2 separate regions of the Homo sapiens genome follow, and region 2 is linked to region 1. The links come from fine-mapping of genetic effects on gene expression. Tissue or cell type: lung. Region 1 holds a variant in brackets; the other region holds the start of a gene. All regions are shown on one strand. Distances are from middle to middle.

Region 1 (16,714 bases):
GGAGGTGGAGGTTGCAGTGAGCCGAGATTGCACCACTGCACTCCAGCCTGGGAGACAGAACAAGACTCCATCTCAAACAAACAATAATAACCTACCTTATGGGTTCATGTAAGAATTAATGAGACAATCTTTGTGAAACGAGAAATGCCCTGCAGACATTAGGTGGGGTTAGTGAATTGCTTTCTTTTTACCCAGGGGCCAGTAGAGGTACAGAGAGGTAAAGTGACTTACCCAGGGTCACACAGCTACTCGCCTGGCCAGGATCCTGCAGGGGTGAATGGCAGGAAAAGCTTTCCCTGGTGCCCCTCTTTTGCAGCCTGGTCTGGAGGGGATACAGGAGGCCACTGAGACCAAAAGACCTCTGGTCGCTTGGGAGAGAAAACTCCTCAGAAGAACTTGTTTCCCGGCTTGAAAAGGAGTGGATGAGGAACCGCAGTGCAGCCCGGAGGTAAGTGGGTGGAGGTCAAGAACTCACCTGATGCTACTTCAGAAAAGCTCATCATTGGCCGGGTGCGGTGGCTCACGACTGTAATCCCGGCATTTTGGGAGGCCGAGGCAGGCGGATCACAAGGTCAGGAGTTCAAGACCAATCTGGCCAACATAGTGAAACCCCATCTCTGCTAAAAATAGAAAAATTAGCTGGGCGTGGTGGTAGGCACCTATAATCCCAGCTACTCAGGAGGCTTGAGGCAGGAGAATCGTTTGAACCCAGGAGGCAGAGGTTGCAGTGAGTGGAGATGTCACCATTGCACTCCAGCCTGAGTGACAGGGCCAGACTCCGTATCAAAAAAAAAAACAAACAAACAAGACAAAAACAAAAACAAAAACAAAAAAACCTCATCATTTGACCCCCAGTCCAGCCCCCAACGCTACTCTGGCGGCACTGCCGCCTCCCCACCTTGCCTTCCAGCTGATCCCACTAAGTAGTATCAGGCTTAAGATATGGTTCCTCCCAGAACGCATCACAGGTTCCTACAAACGGGGAACAAACAGGTTCCTACAAATGGGGAAATGGCAGAATGACAGGCAGCAAACAGAAGAGGTATTTTAAGGCCGGGGTGGAGGGTTGGGAGGTGACTCAACACACAAGCAGCTGCTCACTTACTATATAACCTGAGCAATTCCTTTCCTGGGCCTCAGTTTTCTCATCTGTTCAGTGGGGATGTCATTAGCCCCAGCTCATAGCTTATGGGGATGAAAAAAAAGGATGATTTATGGAAAAGAACTTGCAAATGTCTTGCAAATGGGAAGTGCTCAAGCACTGTTAGTCATCCAGAGGGTGTTAAGATCTTTGGAGTTATCCACTCTGTCCACTCCTGCCCTCAGTGGCATCTCTGGAAACTTCTCTGCAGCCCTTAGAGCCTGGGATGCCTCATTTGAGAAACTCTGGTCTAGATAAATGAGCCTGCATAGGATTAGATAAAATTGGGTTAAATGCTGCCCTGCCTTCAAATAGTGATGACCTTGGACACGTTGCTTAACCTCACCGGATCTTGGTGTTTTAGGAGACAGAACAAAAAAGGAAGTTAGCTCTGTGGGAAGTTCCCTGCATACTCCGGGATTTTGTGGTAGTTGTTGCAGATGGCTGAATCCCACACATTAAGAGAGACAGAGGAGACAGAGACTGATACTATAGGCTCACACAGCTAAGAGGATCTAGCCTCAGGTGTTGCTGGATCAGGGGACTCAAATGATGTCAGGATTCTCTCCTTTCATCTCCCATCCCAACTATTATCTATGTGTTGGTCTCTCCATAAGGCCTATCCCTTCCCATGCAAGTTCAGCAAACTCCAGCAGAATAAGAGAGCATCTCTCTCCTAACGTCCATATAGTAAATCCCAAGGAAGGCCTCTAATTGGCCTGGCTCAAGTCATGTGCCTGTCAGGGGCCAATCCCATGCCCAGGGGGCTGGTGCCATGACTGGTGGTCCCTTCAGAGCCACAGAAGTGGGTAGGGGCTGTTCCCACAAAGGAAGGGCATGTGTTTTTCCAAACAGAATAAGTAGTGTGAGAGAACCAAAACATCAGTTCTCTCTCACCCCAGGCATGGCTTGCTGGACCCCCTTCACTGGGTTGTGGTATGATCTCAGCTCACTGCAACCTCCACCTCCTGGGTTCAAGCAATTCTCCTGCCTCAGCCTTCTGAGTAGCTGGGACCACAGGCGTGTGCCACCACATCTAGCTGATTTTTAAATTTTTTTTAGTAGAGACAGGGTCTCACCATGTTGGCCAGGGTGATCTTGAACTCCTGACCTCAGGGGATCTGCCTGCCTTGGCCTCTCAAGGTGCTGGGATTACAGATGTGAGCTACTGCACCTGACTCACCCTCTACTTTTGAATGATTTTACGGAAGTGGCAGAATCCAGTCCACAGGGGCTCTGGAAGGAGCCTCTGCCAACTCCTGGCATCCCCAGCCAACATGAAAATTACAGGTCACCCAACACTAGAACTAAAGGGTAGAAACATTCTCCAGAACAGTTTGAGAATCCTCCCATAAACAGTTGACAGAAAGAAAGGGGAAAGATGGGGTTATACAAAGACCAGGCTCCGTCAGCTTCTGAAACAACCGACTGCACCCACAGAGAACTTTGGTTTTCTTTCTGAAGTATTTTGCAACCACTGGGGGAAGGGAGAGGGCGTCCTCCTGAGAGGCCACACAACAGCCACCTGCTGGTCCAGTCGGCTTCACTAATTTTTGTATTTTTTATTAGAGGCGGGGTTTCTCCATGTTGCTCAGGCTATCAGACTGGCCCTGAACTCCTGACCTCAGGTGATTCGCCCGCATTGGCCTCCCAAAGTGCTGGGATTACAGGTGTGAGCCACCGTGCCCGGCCTCCACCACTCCCTTTTGTATCCCCCAACTCACACCTTGCCCATGCCACTCATGCATACCCCCTGCCTTGCCCCACCATCATTTGTGAGATCTGCACTAAATGGCCTTCAGTCCAGAGACCAGACGTCAGACAGCAATCTGGACATCTTCCTTGATGGGAGGTGAGACCTGCAGGAGAGGAAAACACTTGCTATGGAGCCTGCAGGCTGAACACACTGACTCTCTGGGTTAAACAGCTCAAATAGAACTGAGCAGAACCTCAGCCAGAAAGAAAACTTTCCAGTGAACTCTTCCCCGACCCCATTTTGCAGATGGAAACACTAAGGCTCAGAGGAGAGGAGACAGAGCAGGCATTGGAACCACAGTCTCCTGGCTCCAAAGCCAAGTTCTGTCCACCCAGCCAAGCTCCTTCCTTCCTTCTATAAATTTTTATAACAGTATGTGCAGGGGGCACTCTTATTAGGCCCTTTGCACACATCACTCAATCTGTTTTTCCCATTCATTTGACAAGTGTTTATTGAGCTCCTACTGTGTGCAGGAGCTGGACTCTATACTAGGGACATCTTGGTGGAAAACACAGGCAAAGTCTACCCACCTGGGGTTCTAACGAGACAAAGAGAGGGTTGGAGCCATGGACATGGCTGTGAAGGCAATGAATTAAATGGCAGGATCAAACAGGAAAGGGTGGGCAGGGATGCTCTCTGTATGGAAGGGGCATCTTCTTGGCTTTGAGATCCAAATGCCAAAATATTTGTGAGCAGCAGGCCACACCCACTCAGTAACAGAGCTGAACCACAACCCTCCATAGATGCCAAACCAAACACCAGATCAGACCAATAATGTGGGACAGAGACCTTGGCCTTGAAGGGTCTGGCCACCTGAGCTCACCAGAGGTTTTTCTTATGCTTCTTTTTTTATTATTATTTTATTATGGTGAGGTTGGGGGTCCTTAGTGCACAAGAAACCCTTTACAAACCATAAATCAAGATCTAGGCTCAAATCCCTGCTCTGCCCTTGCTGTGTGACCTCGGGCGGCTGTCGCCATCTCTCAGAGCCTCAGCTTCCCCTTCTGTAAAATGGAAAACCTAATAATGCTCACCTGGCAAGGGGATCCAGGGGAGTCAGTGAGCTCCTTCGTGTAAAGAGCTGATCCCAGCACGTGGCCCCGGGTCACAGATCTGTAATGGGGATTGAAATTACTGATAAGTGGCCGGGCATGGTGGCTCACACCTGTAATCCCAGCACTTTGGGAGGCCGAGGCAGGTGGATCACCTGAGGTCAGGAGTTTAAGACCAGCCTGGCTAACGTTGTGAAACCCTGTCTCTACCAAAAATACAAAAATTAGCCAGGCATGGTGGTGTGTGCCTGTAATCCCAGCTACTTGGGAGGCTGAGGCAGGAGAATTGCTTGAACCCAGGAGGCAGAGGTTGCGGTGAGCCGAGATTGCTACACTGCACTCCAGCCTGGGCGACAAGAGCGAAACTCTGTCTCAAAAAAAAAAAAAAAGAAAAGAAAAAGAAAAAGAAATTACTGATAACCTTATAGGTTGTCAGAGCCACAGGGGACTCAGCAGGGGACCACACCCATCCTCTCACACACAGAGAGAGGAGCAGTGTCCCCGCCCAGGACCACACAGCAACCGGACTGTCAGCAGCTGCATCGCCCCAGCCTCTCCTTTCTGGCCCAGGGCTTCTGACCTGCCTCACAGGGGCCCTCGGGCCTCCCCCATCTCCTCCTCTCCCTCCCTCACCTTAGCTCTTCTCTGTGGCCCCTGGTTATAGCCAAAGGCTGGGGATCTTATTAGTTTGAGGCAGCCTGAGCTTCTGTCTGCACTTTCACCCAGAGCTAGAGCACCAGGCCCCATGCCCATCAGCCGTGATTCTCCACCAGTTCAAAACCACCTAAGGGCTGGCTGATTGTGTGTGTTGGGGACGGGGTGCTGTTCTTCCTCCAGGTTGACAACACGATAGGTTGAAAAGTACATGAGAGGCCAGGTGTGGTGGCTCACATCTGTAATCCCAGCACTTTGGGAGGCCAAGGCGAGCAGATCACCTCAGGTCAGGAGTTCAAAACCAACCTGGCCAACATGGCATAACCCCTTCTCTACTGAAAATACAAAAATTAGCTGGGTATGGTGGCACTTGCCTGTAATCCCAGCTACTCGAGAGGCTGAGGTGGGACAATCACTTGAACTGGGAAGTGGAGGTTGCCGTGAGCTGAGATCACACCACTGCACTCCAGCCTGGGCGACAGAGCAAGACTTCGTCTCAAAAAAAAAAAAAGGAAAAGAAAAAAGAAAAGTGCATGGGCTCTGGAGGCAGAGAGCTGGAATCAAATTCCAGTTCTTTTACTTCTCAGCTGTGTGCCCTTGGGCAAGTTCGCTTCTCTGAGCCCCAGTTTTCTCATCTGTGAAATGGGAACAACACCTGGCTTCTCAGGGGGTCTTAGGATGACTGGGGAGTGCCTGGCACATAGTAGGTGCTCAACAGGTGTGCTTTCCCATGGCCATCTAAGAGGCCTCAGAGTGCCCTCCTGCCCTGCCCCCCAACTCCCATGATTGCCTCTTAAGTGGGTACTCAGGGTGATAAGGAGGAACAGGTGAGGGAGCCAGGCTAGATCCACACCCACCCATCTCCACTGTTGGGAAAACAACCCTTTAATGCCTGGCCCTGCCGCTGGCGGCTGAGAGTATAAAATGGGACCCAGAGCTAATCTCTCCCTTCCCCTCAGGCACAACAAGGCAATAGCATTTAAAAGGAAAGGCGGCAGTGGCATGAAGGCTCCAGAGACCGAGCCCTTCCTACGGCAAGAAGGGAGCCAGTGGCGCCCACTGCTGAAGGCCATCTGGCAGGTGTTCCATTCTACCTTCCTCCTGGGGACCCTCAGCCTCATCATCAGTGATGTCTTCAGGTTCACTGTCCCCAAGCTGCTCAGGTGAGTCCCAGACCTCAAGTGCCCTGCTAAGGTGGGTGGTCTCTTAGTGGCATCCTTCCAGGGCCAGGGGGCTTCAGCTCTCCTGCCTCTGCCTATACGTCTGGTGCTCGGGACACTGGATGGTGGGTGAGAAGGACACTGAGGAAGGGAAATGGATTAATGAGAAAGTGACTGACCCCCAGAAGGGCAAATAAGCAAGCTCTTACCTGACTGCATCAATTAGTTTTTGCTGTAAAATGCCCCAAAAGTGAGTGGCTTAAAATGACAAACATTCTTTTATTTAGTTCATGGTAATGTGGGTCAGTAATGTGGGCTGGGCTCAGCTGGGTGGTGGTTCTTTTCTTGGCTGGGTTTTCTCATGTGCCTGCAGTTGTGTATCTGAGACTGGGATGGCTGTCTCTGCTCCATGTGGGTCCCCATCCTCCAAAAGGCTAGCTCAGACTTGTTCATGTGGGTGCTTGGGAGGGTTCTAAGAAATAGACCAAAAACCACATTTTCTCTTGAGGCCTAGGCTCAGAGCCAGCATGGCTTTACCTCCACTGTACTCTGTTGGCCAAAGCCGGTTTTGTAGCCAGCCCAGATTCAAGTGGTGTCTGCTCAGCTGACATAACAAAGCATCACAGACTGAGACTGAGTGGCTTGAACAACAGAAATGTATTTTATCATGATTCTCAAAGCTGGAAGTTCGAGATTAGTATCTGCAAGGTGGTTCCATCTGAGGCCTCTGTCCTTGGCTTGCAGTTGGCCACCTCCTCCCTGTGTCCCCATATGGTCTTTCCTCTGTTTGCGCCCCCTGGTGTCTCCTTGTGTGTCTACATTTCCTCTTCTTAAAAGGACCCCATCAGATTGGATTAGGGCCCAGCCTAATGACCTCATTTTTAACTTCATTGCCTCTTTAAAGGCCCTATTTCCAAATACAGTCACATTCAGAGGTACTGGGGGTCGGGGCTTCAACATATAAACTTTGTGAGGACACAATTTAGCCTATAACAAGTGGGAACAAAAACTCCACCTCTTGATCTTGAGGAGCTGCAGTCAGATTGAAAAGGAGTATGGACAGTGGGGGAAATAACGGAGACCATTATTGCAAAAAAAACCACACTGACTGATCCTCCACACCTGGACTAGTTTGGGCCGACTGATCCTCCACATCTGGACTGGTTTGGGCAAAGGCAACACCCTTAGGCACCTCCTCTCACCAGCTGTACCTTCTCCCTCCTTCCCCTGCAAGCCTTTTCCTGGAGTTTATTGGTGATCCCAAGCCTCCAGCCTGGAAGGGCTACCTCCTCGCCGTGCTGATGTTCCTCTCAGCCTGCCTGCAAACGCTGTTTGAGCAGCAGAACATGTACAGGCTCAAGGTGCTGCAGATGAGGTTGCGGTCGGCCATCACTGGCCTGGTGTACAGAAAGGTGAGCCCTGGGGGACAAGGGCAGGTCTTCCCAGCCAGGAAAAGCAGTATCACTGAGCGGGCAGTAATGTTATCAGCAGCTGAGAACGCATTCAGTCCTTGCTTATTAGAGTCACTCACCATACATTCTCACTTCCTTAGTTATTTCTCTGTATTATATGTATTTATTTTTTTGAGATGGAGTCTTGCTCTGTCACCCAGGCTGGAGTGCAGTGGTGCAATCTCGGCTCACTGCAACCTCCG[C/T]CTCCCGGGTTCAAGTGATTCTCCTGCCTCAGCCTCCTGAGTAACTGGGACTATAGACACGTGTCACCACGCCCAGCTAATTTTTATATTTTTGGTAGAGACAAGGTTTTGCCATGTTGGTCAGGCTGGTCTCGAACTCCTAGCCTCAAGTGATCTGTCTCAGCTCCTTAGTTATTCCTGTAAGGTCTTGTGTGATCTGTCCCTAGGGTGTCTCTGACCTCATCCCGTCACCTCCTCCCATGCTCACTCTCCTCCAGCCACACAGGTCTCCTTTCAGTTCCTCAAACACTCCAGGCCCCCACCCACCCTGGGGCCTTTGCAGCTGTTCTCACTGTCTAGGCACCACTTCTACTCCCCCAATCTAATTTTAATTTTTGAGCCTGATTTTAACTTCCACTCATTCCCCCTTGAGGATAAAGGATTAACCTTCTGATAAGGTGGCCTGTCAGCTGTGTTCCCAGACAATACTGCTTGGGGTAAAAATGACCCCTAGGCTGGGCACAGTGGTGCACGCCTGTAATTCCAGCAATTTGGGAGGCTGAGACAGGCGGATCACTTGAGGTCAGGAGTTCAAGACCAGCCTGGCCAACATGGCGAAACCCCATCTCTACTAAAAATACAAAAATTAGCCAGGCATGGTGGCATGTGCCTGTAATTCCAGCTACTTGGGAAGCTGACACAGGAGAATCGCTTGAACCCGGGAGGTGGAGGTTGCAGTGAACTGAGATCACGCCACTACAGCGCAGCCTGGGTAAGAGAGCGAGACCTCGTCTCAGAACAAAAAAAAAACAAAACAAAAAAACCCAAATTGCATCTGGGCTGGAAGTTCTGTCCATTGACTGTGAATACCTGGTTGGAGGCCATAGCTTTAGACTTCTCTCTGTGCAGTGGCTCTTGTCCGTTCCTGGGACTCTGGAAGCTAAGTCCCTGGACTGCTGCCCCAAGAGCTATTGGCTCCTGTGGGGTATGGAGCATCTGAGCCAGGGCAGGTCCCGTCCCATGTAAGTGTCATTCCCTGACACCTGAGCTGTCACCTAGGGGAGGAGGGGACAGAGGGGACAGCTCCTAGGTGGCCGAGAGGGCAGCTCTTGATGCTTTCCTGCCAGAGTGCTGCATCCCAGGCTCCTGTTCCCCTGAGCATGCCAGAGCTAGGTGTGCCCTATCCTGTCTTGAGAGTCCACATTTCCTTGAGCCTAAGAGGAAGGCCGCCTGGTGAGCAGGCATTGATCTTCCTATTCCCCACCCACACGCCAGGAGGCCTTCTTTGATCTCCTGATGAGATCAGATCCCTCCTCTCTAACCTCTGGGCTTTTTTTTTTTTTTTTTTTTCTGACAGAGTTTCGCTCTTGTTGCCCAGGCTGGAGTGCAGTGGCACAGTCCCGGCTCACTACAACCTCCGCCCCCTGGGTTCAAGTGATTCTCCTGTCTCAGCTTCCTGAGTAGCTGGGATTACAGGTGTGCGCCACCATGCCCGGCTAATTTTGTATTTTTAGTAGACAGGGTTTTACCATGTTGGCCAAGCTGGTATCGAACTCCTGACCTCAGGTGATCCACCCACCTCAGCCTCCCAAAGTGCTGGGATTACAGACATGAGCCAACGCGCTCAGCCTGGGCTACTTTTTTATGTTACTCATCATAACTGCCATTAAAGCATGAGTTTTAGAAATATTTTTGTTTTGTCTTATTTTTTTGAGACAGAGTCTCACTCTGTCACCCAGGCTGTAGTGCAGCGGTGCAATCTTGGCTCACTGCAACCTCTGCCTCCTGGGTTCAAGCAATTGTCCTGCCTCACCCTCCCAAATAGCTGGGATTACAGGTGCCCACCAGCATGCCCAGTTAATTTTTGTATTTTTACTAGAGATGGGGTTTTGCCATATTGGCCAGGCTGATCTCGAACTCCCGGCCTCAAGCAATCCACCCGCCTCAGCCTCCCAAAGTGCTGGGATTACAGGTGTGAGCCACTGTGCCCGGCCAGTTATATAAATCTTTATTATAGAGCCTTGTTCCCCACCTCAAACTCCAGGCCCGGGAGAGCAAGCCTCATCTCTGTTGTTCACAGCTGTATTTTCAGTTCCCAGCTCAGTGTGAGTCACACAGTGAGCACTCTTCAAAGACTTGCTAAGTGGAGAATTTCTATGTCCAGTCATTCCTGGATCACTTCTTCACACCCTCACGCAGTCACAAAGGGAGGGCTGCATTTGGAATTTAGCATTCAACAGGCTGGAAGAGGTCCACTGTGACCCCAGGGTTAAGGCAGATGTGAGGCTGCCAGAGAACCAGGTTGGTGTCACAGAAGCACATGAAAGGTCTCACCCTTGTCATGCCTTCGTCACCCTGGATTCCATTCCTTGTGTAGGAGCTTACAAGGCCTGTGACTTTGGGCAAGTTGCTCAACTTCTCTCTGCCTCAGTTTCTTTAGCCATAGAATGGGGTTAGTAAATGTTCATTTCATTGATTCTCGTCTCACATTTTTTTTTCACTCTAATACTTCCAAAATCGAGATGTCTCTTACATGTCTTAATTTAACTGGAAGTGGTATTTTCCTTGGTGAGAGAATAATAGAGAGCAATTTATCCATAGAATTTTTTTTAAAGACAGGGTCTTGCTCTGTTGCCCAGGCTAGAGTGCAGTGGCACCAACATGGCTCACTGCAGCCTCAACCTCCTGTACTCAATTAATCCTCCCACCTCAGCCTCCCCAGTAGCTAGCTAGGACCACAGGCGCACCACAACCATGCCTGGCTAATTTTTTCTTTTTTCCCCCCCGAAATGGATTTTGCTCTTGTTGCCCAGACTGGAATGCAATGGCTTGATCTGGGCTCACTGCAACCTCTGCCTCCTGGGTTTAAGCGATTCTCTTGCCTCAGCCTCCCAAGTAGCTGGGATTACAGGTGCCTGCCACCATGCCCAGCTAATTTTTGTATTTTTGGTAGAGACAGGGTTTCACCATGTTGGCCAGGCTGGTCTCCACCTCCTGACCTCAGGTGATCTGTCCACCTCGGCCTCCCAAAGTGCTGGGATTATAGACGTGAGGCACCGCACCCGGCCCCCTGGCTAATTTTTTAAAGTATTTTGTAGAGCTTGGGTCTTACTATGTCGCGCGGGCTGGTTTCGAACTCCTGGGATCAAGCAATCCTCCCACCTCAGCCTCCCAGAGTGGCGGGATTACAGGCAGAGGCCACTGCACCTGGCCTGGCATTAGAGGGAATGAATATGGTAGTGCCTGCTTGGTACCATTCATGGCTGTGAGCACCCCGGGAAAGGATAAGGCTGTTCATTTAGCACAGTGCCTGCGACATGGTGAGCACTGGGCAGATGACCACCGTTATCTGTGTTAATCTGGTGTTTTCGTGCATGTTATTCATTATTATGCCTCCCGTGCTTTAGGGATCTTGGAGGATTTTCATTTTTGTCATCTCTGTGGATCCTCAAAGAGCCCTGAGAGGTTGGCCTAAGAGACTTTACTCACCCACCTCGCAGACGTGTGAGGTGGGGCTCAGTGGGTGGAGAAGCCACCTGGGGCATCCCTCTGCCCCGGCCTCCCCACTTTACTTCTCTCCTTCTGCCCACCCGCCAGGTCCTGGCTCTGTCCAGCGGCTCCAGAAAGGCCAGTGCGGTGGGTGATGTGGTCAATCTGGTGTCCGTGGACGTGCAGCGGCTGACCGAGAGCGTCCTCTACCTCAACGGGCTGTGGCTGCCTCTCGTCTGGATCGTGGTCTGCTTCGTCTATCTCTGGCAGGTATGCCAGAGGAGGAAGACGGGATTTGAACGGAGTCCCCCACCCCCTCCTTCTCCCCCTCCTCCTTCCCCCTCCCACCCTTCCTCCTCCTGACTTAGCATTCAAGAGGCTGGAAGAGGTCCGCTGTGACCCCAGGGTTAGGGCAAGTCTGAGGCTGTGGGAGAACCAGGTTGGTGTCAGAGAGGCACATGAAAGGTTTTACCCTTGTTCTGCCTTCATCACCCTGGATTCCATTCCTGGTGTAGAAGCTCATAAGGCTTCCTCCCCTCTCCCTCTGCCCCAGCCTCCTCCTCCTGCCCCCCTCCTCTTGCACCCCTCCCTGCACCCTCCCTCCTCCTGCATCTCTCCCACCTTCTGCCCACGCACCCCCTCCTCTTCCTGCACCCCTTCCTTTTCCTCCTTCCCCCTCCTCCTCCTCTTCCTCTCTCCTGCTCCACCTTCTTCTTCCTTTCTGCTCCCTGTCATCTTCCCTCCCACTTCTTCCCTTCTCCCTTCTTCTCCTCTACCGTCCTCCCTCTCTTCCCTCTGCTCTTCCCTCTCCTTCTCTTCCCTTTCTTCTTCCTCTCCTCCTTTTTCTCCTCCCCTTCCACCCCCATCTCCTCCTTCTCCTCCTCCTCCAATCCTGTCTCAATTTGCCTACTATTGTCTGATACGATGGGAAAAGTCCTCAATAAGGATGACCTTCACTTGACCTTGGGCAGGAAGTTCACCCTCTCTGGGCCTCAGTTTCCTCTGTAGAAAGATGATGATGATGACGTTGATACTTCCCCATGTGCTATTAGGGTACCCAGTAGGCAAGTTAACCATGTTTTGAAGTTACCAGTAACCCTGAGGCACCACCATAGCCACTGTCCACAAAACACAAGAGGAGAACATTTTAGGGGGAAAAATTGCTACTTAGTGTTCAAAAAACACAAAGTAGCCATCAGGAAACAACCAAACAAAACAAACAAAACATTTACTTTCCAACTTCATTCCTTTAACGTTGTGGTATAGGATTTTCTTTTTTTAAATTAAAATCAGACTCTGGGCCAGGCACAGTGGCTCATGCCTATAATCTCAGCAATTTGGGGGGTGAGGTAGGTGGATCACTTGAGGCCAGGAGTTCCAGACCAGCCTGGCCAACCCCGTCTCTACTGAAAGATACAAAAATTAGCCGGGCATAGTGGTGGGTGCCTATAACCCCATCCACTCAGGAGGCTGAGGCAGGAGAATCGCTTGAGCCTTGGAGGTGGAAGTTGCAGTGAGCTGAGATAATGCCACTGCACTCCAGCCTGGGTGACAGAGTGAGACTCTGTCTCCAACAAATAAATAAAAGTAAAAATAAAATTAGACTCTGTATCGGGAACTGCCTAGGCTCAAATCCTCCTTCTGACCACTTATCAGTTGTGAATCTGTGTGCAAGGACCCTACTCTCTCTGTGCCTCCTGTTCTTGTCTCCAACGTGAGGATCATAATTAACAGTAGCACTCCTGCCCCAGAGGGGCTGAGGCATTAAACGAGCCCATATGTAGAAAGCACTTAAAAGGGTGCCGGGCACACAACTGCACCCTGTAGGTATTTGTAATATTATCATTAGTTACTTTTCCATAAAGGATAAGACAGTAGATGCTTTTTACACTGGAGGCCACACCATCTCTCCTGCAAATATTCATCTCTGCCCTTGGAGTGCAGAAGTGGCTGTAGACCATACTAAGCAAACAGGCATGGTATTCCTCCAATAAAACTCTATTTATGGATGCTGACATTTGAAGTGCATATCATTTTCATATGTCGTGAAATAGTATCCTTTTGATTTTTTTTTTTTTTTTGAGACAGAGTCTCACTGTGTTGCCCAGGCTTTGGTGCAATGGCACAACTTCGGCTCACTGCAACCTCCACCTCCCAGGTTCAAGCAATTATCCAGCCTCAGCCTCCTGAGTAGCTGGGATTACAGGCGTGCACCACAACATCTGGCTAATTTTTGTATTTTTAGTAGAAACTGGGTTTCACCATGTTGGCTGGGCTGGTCCTGAACTCCTGACCTCAGGTGATCTGCCCACCTCAGCCTCCCAAAGTGCTGGGATTACGGGCATGAGCCACTGTGCCTGGCCTTGTAAAAACTGTTAATGGCATTTTGATTGTAATTGCTGAATATTCCAAAAAAAACTCGAATGCTCATGCATATGATTGTTTTTGCTAAGGCTAGGGGCCAGGACTTTTTCCAGTGTCTTCACCTTGTATTCCAGGGCCTTGCAAACAATAGGCAGGTGCTTAGCAATTACAACATAAGGCACTCAGACAGGGCTTCATGTGCAGTACATAAATGTCATCATTAGGAAGAAAGAGAGGGAGAGAGGAAGAACATGGGAAAATTCAGGGCAATTGATCAGGTTGACCCCACCGTTGCTAAAAATCAGATGAGACCAGGCGGGGCACGGTGGCTCACGCCTGTAATCCCAGCACTTTGGGAGGTGAAGGCCGGCAGAACACTTGAGGTCAGGAGTTCAAGACCAGCCTGGCCAACATGGCAAAACCCTGTCTCTACTGAAAATATAAAAATTAGCCGGGCATGGTGGCATGTGCCTGTAATCCCAGCTACTAGAGAGGCTGAGGCAGGAGAATCACTTGAACCCGGGAGGTGGAGGTTGCAGTGAGCTGAGATCACATCACTGCACTGCAGCCTGGACGACAGAGTGAGACTCCTTCTAAAAAAAAAAAAAAAAAAAAAAAAAAAATTAGATGAGACCAACAAGATATCCATAGATAATGCACCATGTTACTTTGCTTGTGTACTTTTCCTGCCTCTTGGTAGACAGTTCCTAACATCACCGTGAGGTCTTGGTGAAGGAGGAGTGGACACTGAGGTTGCTACAGTTTAATGATACCATTTTTCCCCCAGACAGAGATGTTCATCTTCTGCTCACATTCCTTGAGTGTTTTTCCAAGCCCTGCTGTGGGCTGGTGTTTACCCTCTGCGCCCTTCTCCATTGAGCCACTAGGTAGCGCCATTGCCGCATAAATGAAACAAACTGGCCCAATGTTAGAAAATAGTGTTCCCAGGCCAGGTGGGGTGGCTCAAACCTGTAATATCAGCACTTTGGGAGGCTGAGGTGGGTGGATCACTTGAGGCCAGGAGTTCGAGACCAGCCTGGGCAACGTGGTGAAACCCCATCTCTACTAAAAATACAAAAATTAGCCGAGTGACACATGCCTGTAATCCCAGCTACTCAGGAGGCTGAGACAGGAGAATCGCTTGGGAAGCAGAGGTTGCAGTGAGCCAAGATCATGAGACTGCACTCCAGCCTGGGTCACAGAACAAGAATCCATCTCAAAATAAACAAACAAATAAATAAATAAATAAACATAGTGTTCCTAAGGACTGAGACGGGAAACTGAGGCACACAGACTGGAGTTGGGGTGGGGCTTGTCAAGAGAATGGGTCCAAATAACCTGTGCAGAAATCTCAGAAAGTCACAGCAACTTAAAAATCATTTATTCTACCCCCCACTTCCACATTTTCCAGATATAGAAACCAAAGCCGAGAGGGGGAAGATAACCATCCCAAAATCACCACGTTGGTGGGGGAGCAGGGTTGCCAGAGAAAACACAGGACATTCAGTGAAGTGTGAGTTTCAGACAAACGGAAGAATTTCTCAGTGTATGTCCCAAATATTTCACGAGACTTAGACTAAAACCTTATTCACTCTTTATCTTCAAATGTAACTGGGCATTCTGTATGATGATTTACTAAATCTGACAACCCTTGCGAGGGATGAAATGAAGATTAGGAAAATAATTAAACGCAATAAGAGAAAATGCCAAATGAGAACAACTCTATTCCCATTTTGCAGACAAGAGAATTGCACCTAAGGGAGATGACTTGCCCCAAGGCCACACTCAAAACTCTCAGGGTCAGGATTTGAACCAGGTCCCCTGATTCCATAGGTCTCAACTTTACTGTTGTGGCTGGGAACACCCCCCAGTCCCACTCGTGTGTGTGCACAATCTGTCTTGAATATAACTCTCTCCCTATCGTGTAAGAGGGCTGTTTCCCTCCCTGACATTGAAGGACCCCACCTTCAGCAGGCATCTCCTGACACAGCAGACCCCATGAGCACAGATCCCTGGGACCTGGTGGCTGCCCTTATCAGATTCCCTGACATCCCCATCTTAGGACCCAAGTCTGACCACCTTCGGGGTCTGCAGCTGTGTTACAGAAAAGGGGTCCTGATCCAGATCCCAAAAGAGGGTTCTTGGATCTCGTGCAAGAAAGAATTCAGGGCGAGTCCATAAAGTGAAAGCAAGTGTTTGTTTGTTTGTTTTTTGAGACGGAGTCTCACTCTGCCACCCAGGCTGGAGTGCAGTGGTGCGATCGTGGCTCACTGTAAGCTCCGCCTCCTGGGTTCAAGCTATTCTCCTGCCTCAGCCTCTCGAGTAGCTGGGATCACAGGTGCCCACCACCACACCTGGCTAGTTTTTATATTTTTAGTAGAGACTGTGTTTCACTATGTTGGCCAGGCTGGTCTCAAACTCCTGACCTCAGGTGATCTGCCCGCCTCCGGCCTCCCAAAGTGCTGGTATTACAGGCATGATCCACCGTGCCCGGCCAAAAGCAAGTTTTTTAGTAAAGTAAAGATCTAAAAGAATGGCTACTCCATAGAGAGAGCAACCCAGAGGGCTGCTGGTTGCCCATTTTTATGGTTATTTCTTGATGATATGCTAAACAAGGGGTGGATTATTCATGCCTTTCCTTCTTAGACCATATAGGGTAACTTCCTGATGTTGCCATGGCATTTGTAAACTGTCATGGCGCTGGTGGAGTGTAGCAGTGAGGATGACGGGAGGTCACTCTCGTAGCCATCTTGGTTTTGGTGGGATTTGGCCGCCTTCTTTACTGCAACCTGTTTTATCAGGAAGGTCTTTGTGACCTGTATCTTGTGCCGACCTCCTATCTCATCCTGTGACTTACAATACCCTAACCGTCTGGGAATGCAGCCCAGTAGGTCTCAGCCTCATTTTACCCAGTCCCTATTCAAGATGGAGTTGCTCTGGTTCACGTGCCTCTGAGAGCTGGGCTCCTCGGGATCTCCTGACATCCTGCCCCTTCTATCCCCAGCTCCTGGGGCCCTCCGCCCTCACTGCCATCGCTGTCTTCCTGAGCCTCCTCCCTCTGAATTTCTTCATCTCCAAGAAAAGGAACCACCATCAGGTTTGGCTTTTGGGAAAGGGACGGACCAGGCAGGAAGTAGGGAGGAAGCCACAGGTCCTGGTGTGGGAGATGCGGAGGGGAGAGCTGAGTGCGAGCCCACGGGTCTGGCTTTGTTCTTGTCGTCTGTGAGCTGCCCATCACTCAGACCTGCACCCCCTCCCCCTATCCTCTCAATGGACAGTGGCTCCGTCCCTCCAATGTTCAGGCCACAGGCCCTGGGTCAGTTCAATGCCTTTTTCTCTCACATCCCATCTGTCAGCAGATTTGCTTGGCATCACCTTCAAAATGCATCCAAAATGTCACACTTCCCAGCATAGGCTCTCCGAACCCCATGATCTCTAACCCAGGTCACAGCAGCAAGCCCCTGG
Region 2 (12,356 bases), 20 kb before region 1:
ATATCACAGGGTATACACCCACTGTGATATTAGGGGTAGTAACATCTCTCAAGGATATAACGAATAATATGACAGGGTGTACATCCACTGTGATATTATGGGTAACAATATCTCCCTAGGATGTAACGAATAATATCACAGGGTGTACACCCACTGTGATAAGAGGAATAATAATATTTCTCAAGGATATAACAAATAATATGACAGGGTGTACATCCACTGTGATATTATGGGTAATACTATCTCCCCACTACATAATGAATAATATCACAGAGTGTACACCACTGTGATATTAGGGGTAATAACATCTTCCCCAAATATAACGAATACTATCACAGGGTGTTCACCCATTGTGATATGAGACATAATAATATCTCCCCAGGATACAACAAATAATATCACAGGGTGTACACCCACTGTGATATTAGAGGAAATAATATCTTCCCAGGATATAATGAATAATATTACAGGGTGTACACCCACTGTGATATTAGAGGGATTAATATCTTCCCAGGATATAATGAATAATATCACAGGGTGTACACCCACTGTGATATTAGAGGAATTAATATCTCCCCAAAATATAATGAATAATATTACAGAATGTTCACCCACTGTGATATTAGGAATAATAATACCTCCCCAGGATATAACCAATAATATCACAGGGTGTACACCCACTGTGCTATTAGGAGTAATAATATCTCCCCAGGATATTACAAATAATATTACAGGATGTACACCCACTGTGACAATATGGGTAATATCTCCCAGGATATTATGAATAATATCACAGGGTATACACTTACTGTGATATTAGGAGTAATAATATCTCCCCAGGATATAATGAATAGTATCACAAGGCGTACAGCCACTGTGATACTAGGAGTAATATAGTAGTATCTCCCCAGGATATAACAAATAATATCACAAGGTGTACATGCACTGTGATATTAAAGGAAATAATATCTCTTCAGGATATAATGAATAATATCACAAAGTATACACCCACTGTGATATTAGGGGTAATATTATATCTCCAAGATATAGTGAATAATATCACAGGGGGTACACCCACAGTATATTAGGGGTAATAGTATATCCCCAGAATATAACGAATAATATCACAGGGTGTACACCCACCGTGACAATATGGATAATATCTTCCAGGATGTTACGAATAGTATCAAAGAGTATACACCCACTGTGATATTAGGGGCAATATCTCCACAGAATATTACAAATAATATCAAAAGATGTACACGCACTGTGACATTAGGGGTAATATCACCCAAAAATATTACAAATAATATCACAGCATGTACACAATGGTGTACGTTCATTGTGATATTATGATATCCATAGGGTATTACAAATAATAGCACAGGGTGTACCCCCACTGTGATATTAGGAGTCATATCTTTCTGGGAGGTCACAGCGTGTACACGCATGGTGTAAATTCACTGGGATATTAGGAGTAATATCGCCCTAGAATATTTCGAATCATATCACAGGGTGTACACCCACTGTGATATTAAAAGGAATATCTTTCTAGAACATTACAAATAGTATCACAAGGTGTACACCCACTATGAGATTAGGAGTAACATCTCCCTAGAATATTATGAATAATATCACAGTGTGTACAGGCACTGTGATTTTAGGAGTACTACCTTCTTAAGATATTATGAATAATATCATAGGGTATACACCCACTGTGAAATTAAAAGCAATAGCTCCCTACGATATTACGAATAATATCACGCAGTGTACACTCAAGGTGATATTAGGAGTAGTATCTCCCTAGGAAATTACGAATATTATCACAGAGTGTACACCCACTGTGATATTGAAAGTATTATCTTTCTAGGATATTATGAATAATATTACAGGGTGTACTCCCTCTGTGATATTAGGAGTTATATCTCCCTAGGATATTACAAATCATATCACAGGGTGTACACCCACTGTGGTATTAGGTGTAGTATCTCCCTAGGATATAACAAATAATATCACAGGGTATACACCTACGGTTATATCAGGAGTTATATCTTCATAGAATATTATGAATAATATCACAGGGTGTACACCCTCTGTGATATTAAAAGTAATATCTTTCTAGGATAGTATGAATAATATCACAGGGTGTACTCTCACTGTGATATTAGCGGTAATAACTCCCTAGGATATCACGAATTCTATGACAGAGTGTACACCCACCATGAGATTTGGAGTAATATATCTCTAGCATATTATGAATAATATCACAGGTTGTACACCTACTGTGATATTAGGAGTAAAATCTCCCTCGGATATTACAAATAATATCACAGTGTGTACTCCCACTGTGATATTAGGAGTAAAATCTCCTTCAGATATTACGAATAATATCACAGGATGTACACCCACTGTGATATTAGGAGTAATATCTCCCTTGGATATTTCTAATAATACCACAGCGTTTACACACATGGTGTTCACCCACTGGGATGTTAGGATAATATCTCCCTTGGATATTACCAATCGTATCAGAGGCTGTACACACGTGGTGTTCACCCAGCGTGATATTAGGAATAATATCTCCCTCGGATATTAGGAACAGTCTCTCCCTGGGACTTAGCAGAACGTAGCCCCCCAGTGTTAAATAAGCGACCACAGCAAGAGGTAGAGGCGCAGGGACTGAAATGAAGACAAATATCTGACAAGTTTAAAACACGTATTTAAAATAGAATTTATAAAATGCTTAATCTGCCGACTCAGGAGCCCGCGGTGCAGGGTGGGGTGGGAGTTGGCAGGTGACCGCTACACCAGCAGAGTAAGACTGCAGGGCTGCGGCCCTCCCTCCTATGCCCTTCTGTTCAGACACCCGAGGGGCCCATGTGCACTCCTGGGATCATACGACCAGAAAACAGGACCCTAGAGGTTTCTTGAGTTTCTGCTTACCAGGGCGGCTGGGTATAGCCCTGCCAGCCCATTGCATAATCTTCTAAGTTCTCCCCACCACCCTCCATTCCAGCAGCGAGGTGCCTGTGACGCGGTCTCCATCCTCTCGGCCTCGACCCGGTGGTCCCCGCGATTGGACGCTTAGGCGGTCACCAGGCCTCCTTGTTACTAACGTGTGCACACCTTTCAGTTCTCTCATCAGGATGAACTCCTGGAAATTGCTGGGTCCAAAGTGTTTAGGAAGTCTGGAGTGATTCTTGTTGCAGGGGGAAGAGGGAACTATGGAGGTGTCACTGAACTTTCAGGGGTTCCGGGACCCCCCAACCCGGTGCCCGTCCCAGCTCCCCGAGCGCCTCTCTTCCCCCATCCCCCACCTCGCCTGTTTTCACCTCCCGTGGCCTCACTCCCGCCGCGCAGCTGGACCTTGCCCGGGGCCTCCCGATCCCGGAGCTCGAATCCCAGCCGGACCAGCCCAGCCCGACCAGCCCAGCCCCGCCTCTTCTCCGGCAGGATCGCGGCCGAGCAGTCTGCCCAGAGACTTAGCGACAGACAGACGCTGGGACCCACGACGACAGAAGGCGCCGATGGCCGCGCCTGCTGAGCCCTGCGCGGGGCAGGGGGTGAGTGCCCCCCATCGCGCCCCACTCTCCTTTTCCAGGCTTGGTTTGGCTGCAGATCTCTCGGGCTGCGATACTGGGGAGAGGAGAGACCCCCAAATTCCTGGACCCGGGAAGCGAGGAGACTTACTCCGGCCCCCTCACTGCAGCGGGTTGGATTTCTTTCACCAAGCCAGCAGCCGAGAGCCCAGCTCTATTTAAGGGGCCACCAGACCTCCCAGCTACTAGGGGCTTTGACTCTTCTTTGCATAAAGCTAGTGGGTCCCCCAAGCCCTCCTACCCCCGGAGAGCCCTTACCTCTCTGGTTTCTTTTTCCATTGCTCTTAGCAAAGGACTCCAGGGAGTGGAGTTCATGGAGTGGGGGTGGGGGTTGCAAACTGCCAGCATTTCGAGGGCCAGGGAGTTGAAGCAATAAACTGGCAATGAACTGAGGGCTTTCTCTGTGCCTAGCCTTGTGCCCAACCTTGTGCCATGCTGCTATGAACTTTGCTGCTATTAATCCATTTAATACAACTCATAGAGGTAGAGTCTCGTTTTCCCCCTTTTACAGGGAAGGAAACTGAGATACAGAGAGGTTAAAGTTTGCACAGCCGGTGAGTTGTGAAACCAGGAGGAGTAAAAAGACAGCGGAGAGAGAATTGAAGAGGCCACGTCCACTAAACTTCAAATTTCTTCTAGGGTTAGATAGGACCAGCAGACCTGCTGAGATGAAAATAACAGATCAAGCTGGGCCGGTGGCTCTTGCCTGTAATCCCAGTACCTAGGAGGCTGAGGCAGGAGGATTGCTTGAGACCAGGAGTTCGAGACCAGCATAGAGAGACCCCCATCTCTACAAAACATAAAAAAAAAAAATTAGCCAGGCCTGGTGAGGCTGCTTATGCCTGTAATCCCAGCACTCTGGGAGGCCGAGGTGGGAGGATTGCTTGAGCCCAGGAAATTCGAAGCTTTGTTGAGCTTTGATTGTGCCACTTCAGCCTGGGCAACAGAGTGAGACCCTGTCTCTAAAACATAAATTAATTAATAATAAAAAATAAAAACAAATCATACATCAAGACCACCAGTCGAACGAGGTTTGGGGTCAGATAAGCCTGGGTCAGAGTCAGCTTTGCCACTTCCCATTTGTGTGTCCCTGGGGGAGGCAGTTCCCCGACTGGTGCCTCAGTCTGCTGGTTTCTGAAATGGAGACAGTACTGTCTGCGTCCTGGAGTTGTTATAAGGATTAACTGACAGTCCATGCCTAGCAATGATTATGGAGCCCAGGTCTCCTAGACCACATGGCCCAGTTCCCTGGGTTCAAATCCCAGCCCTTCCACTCCTCAGCTGGGTAAAGTCAGCAAAGTTACTCAACCTCTCTGGTCCTCAGCTTCTTCATCTGCAAATCAATATAATTGCAACTACCTAGGGTTAATGTCAGGATGAAAGGAATTGAGAATTAGTAGGTATTCCAAAGAGTACTTGGTACATTTTTGTGTAAATGTTAAAGATCCAAAAAGTTGCCTGGCCCCCTGGGCAGGTGAGCTGGGGACCCCTGCCTTGTACCATCCTAAGGGTCCTCTTTGTGTTCCCTCAGGTCTGGAACCAGACAGAGCCTGAACCTGCCGCCACCAGCCTGCTGAGCCTGTGCTTCCTGAGAACAGCAGGGGTCTGGGTACCCCCCATGTACCTCTGGGTCCTTGGTCCCATCTACCTCCTCTTCATCCACCACCATGGCCGGGGCTACCTCCGGATGTCCCCACTCTTCAAAGCCAAGATGGTAGCTGCCATCCCTGGGAGCCTGGAACCAGGCAATGTTCGGGGGAGGCAGGGGACAGGCTGGAACCTGGTGAAGTCTTAAAGTAGACTCCTCCTATCGGGGTGTAGAAGGGAATCTGTTAATCAAACAGAGCAATATTAGAAAGGCTACAGAGGTCAACTCAGTGGAACACGGTTCTCCCAAACAGATTTTGTAATTCCGAAAATCCACGCATGCGCAAACATACGCATACACTCCCATGTTCCTGGACAGTTTATAGCTACCATAACCTGGCATTTTCCAAAACATACCATGTAGACTCTTGGATACACAAGGTAATTTTAGAGCCACATTAGGATGAACCTTTTAAAAAGTTATGCATTTATTTTTATGTTCCCCCACTGGCTGTATTATAGGACAATTTTTATATGTGATATGTATTTACCTTAGTGTGTTAAATAAACACTGGCATTCCAAGTGTGAGCCTTTCTGCTCATCCATCCTCTTCTACTCCATTCTTGTAGGCTTCCAAAGAATGTTCTTCAGAGTTCATTCATTCTTCTGCCATTGTATTAATTTTTACATTATCACCCGCCACCAACCCAGGGGTTGGCAAACTTAAAGAGCCAAGCGGTACACAGTATTTGAGACTTTGTGAGCCAGGTAATCTTCCTTCCGAACACTGAACTCTGCCATTCCAGAATGAACGCAATAGTCATAACCATAGACAATAGTCATGACTGTGTTACTTTTTTGTTTGTTTTTTTTTTTTGAGATGCAGTTTTGCTCTTGTTACCCAGGCTGGAGTGCAATGGTGCGATCTCGGCTCACTGCAACCTCCGCCTCCTGGGTTCAAGTGATTCTCCTGCCTCAGCTTCCCGAGTAGCTGGGATTACAGGTGCCCACCCCCACACCTCGCTATTTTTTTGTATTTTTAGTAGAAACAGGGTTTCGCCATGTTGGCCAGGCTGGTCTCCAACTCCTGACCTCAGGTGATCTGCCTGCCTTGGCCTGCCAAAGTGCTGGGATTACAGGTGTAAGCCACCACCCCCGGCCGACTGCGTTTCAATAAAACTTTATTTGTAGTCACTGAAATTTGGATTTCATGTAATTTTCACCTGTCATGACATATGCTTTTTGTTTTTCTTTGATGATTGATAGTTTGCCAACTTCTGCTTTAAACTGAGGTTCTTTGAGCAGTTCCTCCAACGTAACCTAGCTCTGGCCTTCCCTCTGGTGTGCCCACGTTCTCTCATTTTCTTCCTTTCTTTTATTCAATAGAGAAACCAAAATATATTAGAGAGACCCTAGAGACTTACTGGCCCAACAGAGAGTTGCTCCTTGATTTCATAGCAGGGATTGAAAAATGACTTGGAGAAAGGATAGTTTTTTACCTGGTGAGTACATTTCATTTCCTGCTGTTTCTCCATACCCACAGTCATCTCATATGTGCACGATTGGAGCACTTCCTGCATTTTGGAAAACACTCGGTTGGCTCAAGCCCTTCCTGTGCATTATTTATATGACAGTTACAGGTCAGGAGTGATCTGCAATGCCCTTTACACATTGTTCACATTGGCACGTTGCTAGCTGGTGACCCTGGTATACTCAGTATCAGCCAGGATGTTGCAGAACCAGCTCCCAGTTGGACATGGGGCCGCCTACCAGTTTGCTGTGACCTCTCTTATTGCCCCCCAAGCTTATCTAAGCCTGTATCCTCAGGTGCTTGGATTCGCCCTCATAGTCCTGTGTACCTCCAGCGTGGCTGTCGCTCTTTGGAAAATCCAACAGGGAACGCCTGAGGCCCCAGAATTCCTCATTCATCCTACTGTGTGGCTCACCACGATGGTAATGATGCCTTCAGTCTGGAGCCCGGCTTCCTCCCAGCTGCTGCTTTGCCTGCCACAGTGGAGAACAAGGGGAAGAGAAGAGGCTCCCCTCAGCCTCCCACCCTCCCCTAAGGGGCCTCCCTGACTTTCCCGTCCAGAGCTTCGCAGTGTTCCTGATTCACACCGAGAGGAAAAAGGGAGTCCAGTCATCTGGAGTGCTGTTTGGTTACTGGCTTCTCTGCTTTGTCTTGCCAGCTACCAACGCTGCCCAGCAGGCCTCCGGAGCGGTAAGTCGGGGCGTGGGCCACCCTGGGAAACCAAAATGGTGGCTCATGCCTTGGGTCCCTTCCTTTCTCCTCCTGTTTCCACATACAACTTATTCTCTATACAGTGACACACACAAGCCAGTCACTTACACTCTAGAGACACAAAATCCACTCCCGCACCTGTCAGTACCCATCATCCCATACATTTCTTATCAACACAATTTCCTGTCTTACAGGCCCACATCACACGTGCCACTTGCACACGATGCACACACTTATAGGCACTGATTCATACATCGCACAAGTACATGCATGCACGCACACACACACAACCTGGGCACAGACACACCTGTGTGCACACATACCCCTCCGTGCACACCTCCCCTCATGTCATGGATTCACCCTCCCCATGTTCCTATGCACCTATATTTACACACTCATTCTGCACACCACTCGTATTTCTGTTGCCCAATCTGGGAAGCAGCTTTTTTTTTTTTTTTTTTTTTTTTTTTTTTGAGAGGCTTGCTCTGTCGCCCAGACTGGAATGAAGTGGCATGATCTCAGCTCACTGCAATTTCTGCCTCTCGGGTTCAAGCACTTCTCCTGCCTCTGCTTCCTGTGTAGCTGGGATTACAGGTGTGTGCCACTACACCTGGCTTATTCTAAATTTCTACTAAATTTCTACTAAAAATTTCTACTAAATTTCTACTAAAAATTTTTGTATTTTTAGTAGAGACGAGGTTTCACCATGTTGGCCAGGCTGGTCTCGAGCTCCTGACCTCAAGTGATCCACCTGCCTTGGCCTCCCAAAGTGTCGGGATTACAGGCGTGAGCTCTTGTCATTCGGCCGGAAGCAGCGTTTCTCTATTAGGAGACATGATGGGTCATTTTCTCTGTAAAGAGAAAAACATGTAGCCTAGACCAACTTCCCTCAGCCTCAGCTTTAGTAATGTTGTGGCCAGACAATTCTTTGTTGGGTGGACAGGGCTGTCTTGTTTGCTGCAGGGTGTGAAACAGCATCCCTGGCTTCTGCCCATAGGTGCCAGTAGCATACCATCCAATTGCAGTAACCCAAAATGTCTCCAGATATTACCAAGTGTCCCTGGGGGTGAGGAGGACAAAGTCACCCACCTATTGAGAAGCACTGGCCTCGACAGTGTGCTTAGCCAAGGCTTCTGGGAGAGGGAGTTATCTTAACACCAATGAACAGGCTGCAGCAGGTTTCAGATATTTTACTTCATTATTTTATTTTTGTGGAGACAACATCATGCTTTGTTGCCCAGGCTGATCTTGAACTCCTCGGCTCGAGCAATTCTCTGACCTCAGCCTCCTAAAATGCTGGGATTAGAGGCATGAGCCACCACGTCTGGACTCACAGATCATTTCTTCAGTCCAGTGGTTACTCCATCCTGCCCCTAAAGGAGAAGGTAGAGAAGCATCACCCTGTCCTTAAGGACAGAGTTTTTATTTTTTGTTTGTTCATTCTGAGACAGAGTCTTGCTCTATTGCCCAGGCTGGAGTGCAGTGGCACGATCTTGGCTCACTACAACCTCCACCTCCGGGTTCAATCGATTCCCATACCTCAGCCTCCCAAGTAGCTGGGATTACAGGCATGTGCCACCATGCCCAGCTAATTTTTGTATTTTTAGTAGAGACAAGGTTTCAATATGTTGGCCAGGCTCATCTCAAATGCCTGACCTCAAGTGACTCACCCGCCTCGGCCTCCCAAAGTGCTGGGATTACAGGCGTGAGCCACAGCGCCTGACCGAGGACAGAGTTTTTAAAAGAGTAACCTTTGTAACTAAGGGGAAATTCCACAGGTTATTCAGTAATTTCTGAAATGGTGGGCTCCCACAGTTGACATAAGTCAGCTTTTTGGGACACAGCATAGAAACAATAATACTGGGACCATATACATTCTGGGGTTCCAACCATGTGCCAGGCACTGTGGCAGGCACTTACACACGTCTCCTCACTGGATTCTCACAAGAGTTCACAGTGATGGGTTCTTTATTTTTTTAAATAGAAATAGAAACAAAGTCTCATTATGTTCCCAAGGCTGGTCTCAAACTCCTGGGCTCAAGCGATCTTTCCACCTAAGCCTCCCAAAGTGCTGGGATTACAGGCTTGAGCCAATGTGCCCCAGCCAATGATGAATTCTAGCCGTCCCATTTTAAAGATGAGGGAGACTAAGGCTAGGAGAAGGGAATGACGGCCTCAGGGCCACAAAGCTTGGGAGTGCAGAGCCCGAGTTCATCTCAGGCAAATTCAGAACAAACTTTCTGAGAGAAACAGTGGGGAAAACAGTGGGAGTTTAGGGAAGATGGGCCATATTGTCATTGGAATATCCAATTGTCTGCTATCTGCCAAAAAACAAACAAACAAACAAAAACCCAAAACTAGAAGAGTATAAAATCCAGTAGAGGAATCATGATTTAAAACTAGGGCTCTGGTTTAAAGCCATAAAACCTCAGTTCACACTAGCTTAATGAAAAGGGTAAGTCAAGGGGGTTCATTAGCTCATGCATTTATTAGCTCATACCCATGGGATCTCCCAGGCATGACTGATCCAGGCCTGGGACCAGGTACCATCACCAGATCTCCACTTCTGCCTCTTGGCTCTGCCATGTTAGCTTGATTCTCCAATGGAGTGGCAAGAAGAGCCACCAATACCTTCACACTTACATTCTAGCATGTAGCAAAGCCAGCAGAATCTCCCGATGGTTCCAGCTCTCAAGTACCCAGCATGGGGTGCTATGTGCATTCCTAACCCTGCCATGGTAGCCAAAAGACCAGAACGTATTCGTTGGCCAGGCCTCATTCACCCACCCAGCCTCGGAGTAGAGTCAGTTCTGCACAAATCACACGCCCGAACACAAGCAAAAAACTTAGGAAGAAAGAAAATCAGTACATGGAAGAGATCTCTGCACTCCCATGATTATTACAGCACTGTTCACAATAAACAAGATTTGGAAGCAACCTAAGTGTCCATCAACAGACGAACTGATAAAGAAAATGTGGTATATATACACAATGAAGTACTATGCAGCCATAAAAAAGAATGAGGTACTGTCATTTTCAACAACATGGATGTTAAGTGAAATAAGCCAGGCACAGAAAGACAAACTTTACATATTCTCACTTATTTGTGAAAGCTAAAAATTAAAACAATGTAACTCATGAACATATAGAGTAGATGGAAGGTTACTAGAGGCTAGGAAGGACAGTGGGTGGGGGAAATGGGGATGGTTAATGGGTACAAAAAAACAGAAAGAATAATATCTATTTGATAGCACAACAGGGTGACTATAGTCAATAATAATTTAATTGTACATTTTAAAATAACTAAAAGAGGCTGGACACAGTGGCTCACACCTGTAATTCCAGCACTTTGGGAGGCCAAGGCAGGAGGATCATCTGAGGTCAGGAGTTCAAGACCAGCATGGGCAACATGGTGAAACCCTGTCTCTACTAAAAATACAAAAAAAGTAGCCAGGCGTGCTGGCACACATCTGTAATCTCAGATACTCAGGAGGCTAAGGCAGGAGAATCACTTGAATCCAGGAGACGGAGGTTGCAGTGAGCCAAAATCAAGCCACTGCACTCCAGCCTGGGCAACAGAGTGAGACTCCAACTCAATAATAAACTAAAAAATAAAATAACTACAAGAGTAGAATGGATCATTTGTAACAGAAAGGATAAATGATTGCGGGGATGGAGACCTCATTTACCTTGATGTGATTATTATGCATTGCATGCCTGTATCAAAATATCTCACGTCATCCAGAAATATATATATCAGGCCGGGCGCGGTGGCTCATGCCTGTAATCCCAGCACTTTGGGAGGCCAAGGCAGGCGGATCACCTGAGGTCAGGAGTTCAAGACCAGCCTGGCCTACATGGTAAAACTCCATCTCTACTAAAAATACAAAAATTAGCCAGGGGTCGTGGCACATGCCTGTAATCCCAGCTACTCAGGAGGCTAAGGCAGGAGAATCGCTTGAACCCAGGAGGCGGAGGGTGCAGTGAGCCAAGATCATGCCACTGCACATCAGCCTGGGTGACAAAGCAAGACTCCGTCTCAAAAAAAAAAAAAGTATACACACACACACACACACACACACACACACACACACCTAAAATTAAAAAATAAAAAATGCTTTAAATTAAAAAAAGAAAGAAAATTAGGGTGTTTCTGACCAGATGACAGGGCAGCAGATGCAAAAATCATTGTGGTGTGGCAGCAGGAGCATCACAATTTGGACCAGATCATCTGCGTGTCCTTGAACAAGGTGCTGTCACTTCTCTGAGCCTTGGTTTCCCCCTGAGTCAAAGGAAGCAAGTAAACTCCAGCTGATGAGACTGTGTATGGCAAGAATGCCGCATGTGCTCAGGGCAGGGTCAGTGCTCAATAAAACCAGCTCTCATCTCTGCAAAACAGAGAACCCTGGCCAAGGGGGAGCAGGGTTGAAGATTGGGGTAGAGGGTGGAACGGAGAAAGGATTTCTTTTGTGGCACAAAGAAGAAGGTAAATTGTTTCTTCATCTCATTGTCCCAGCAGCTGTGGCCAATCATCATGTGGCTAAGGACAAAACCCAGACGCAGCCCTGGCCCACCATTTGTATAGACAGAATATTATAAATTGGGTATTTGAAAATTAGGACCTGCTGGGCATGGTGGCTCATGCCTGTAATCCCAACACTTTGGGAGGCCAAGGCAGGCAGATCACTTTAGGTCAGCAGTTTGAGGTCAGCCTGGCCAACATGGCAAAACCCCATCTCTACTAAAAATATTTTAAAAAAGTTAGCCAGGCATGGTGGTGGGCACCTGTAATCCCAACTACTAAGGAGGCAGAAGCAGGAGAATCACTTGAACCCAGGAGGCAGAGGTTGCAGGGAGCCGAGATCATGCCACTGCACTTCAGCCTGGGCGACCAAGTGAGACTTTGTCTTAAAAAAAAAAGAAAGAA

The links. PIP is the estimated chance that this variant, and not a neighbour inherited with it, causes the effect.
Region 2: it holds the start of ABCC6, and the variant in region 1 is fine-mapped to the expression of ABCC6 in lung (TOPMed, PIP above 0.99). The same link has a PIP of 0.9 or more in cerebral cortex.

What each region holds. Positions count from the first base shown.
Region 1 is chr16:16,192,462-16,209,175 of GRCh38, reverse strand. It overlaps ABCC6 (ATP binding cassette subfamily C member 6), which reads left to right. Exons shown (of 31, transcript NM_001171.6): 7 at 317-448; 8 at 5,563-5,766; 9 at 6,998-7,175; 10 at 10,994-11,155; 11 at 16,254-16,346. LOC105371100 (a long non-coding RNA gene) reads right to left here and starts at 319. Exons shown (of 3, transcript XR_933131.3): 1 at 232-319. RefSeq lists an enhancer at 8,404-8,905. The variant C/T (reference allele first, on the strand shown) is at 7,418.
Region 2 is chr16:16,214,606-16,226,961 of GRCh38, reverse strand. ABCC6 (ATP binding cassette subfamily C member 6) reads left to right here and starts at 3,468. Exons shown (of 31, transcript NM_001171.6): 1 at 3,468-3,563; 2 at 5,131-5,313; 3 at 7,015-7,140; 4 at 7,280-7,408. The coding sequence starts at 3,528.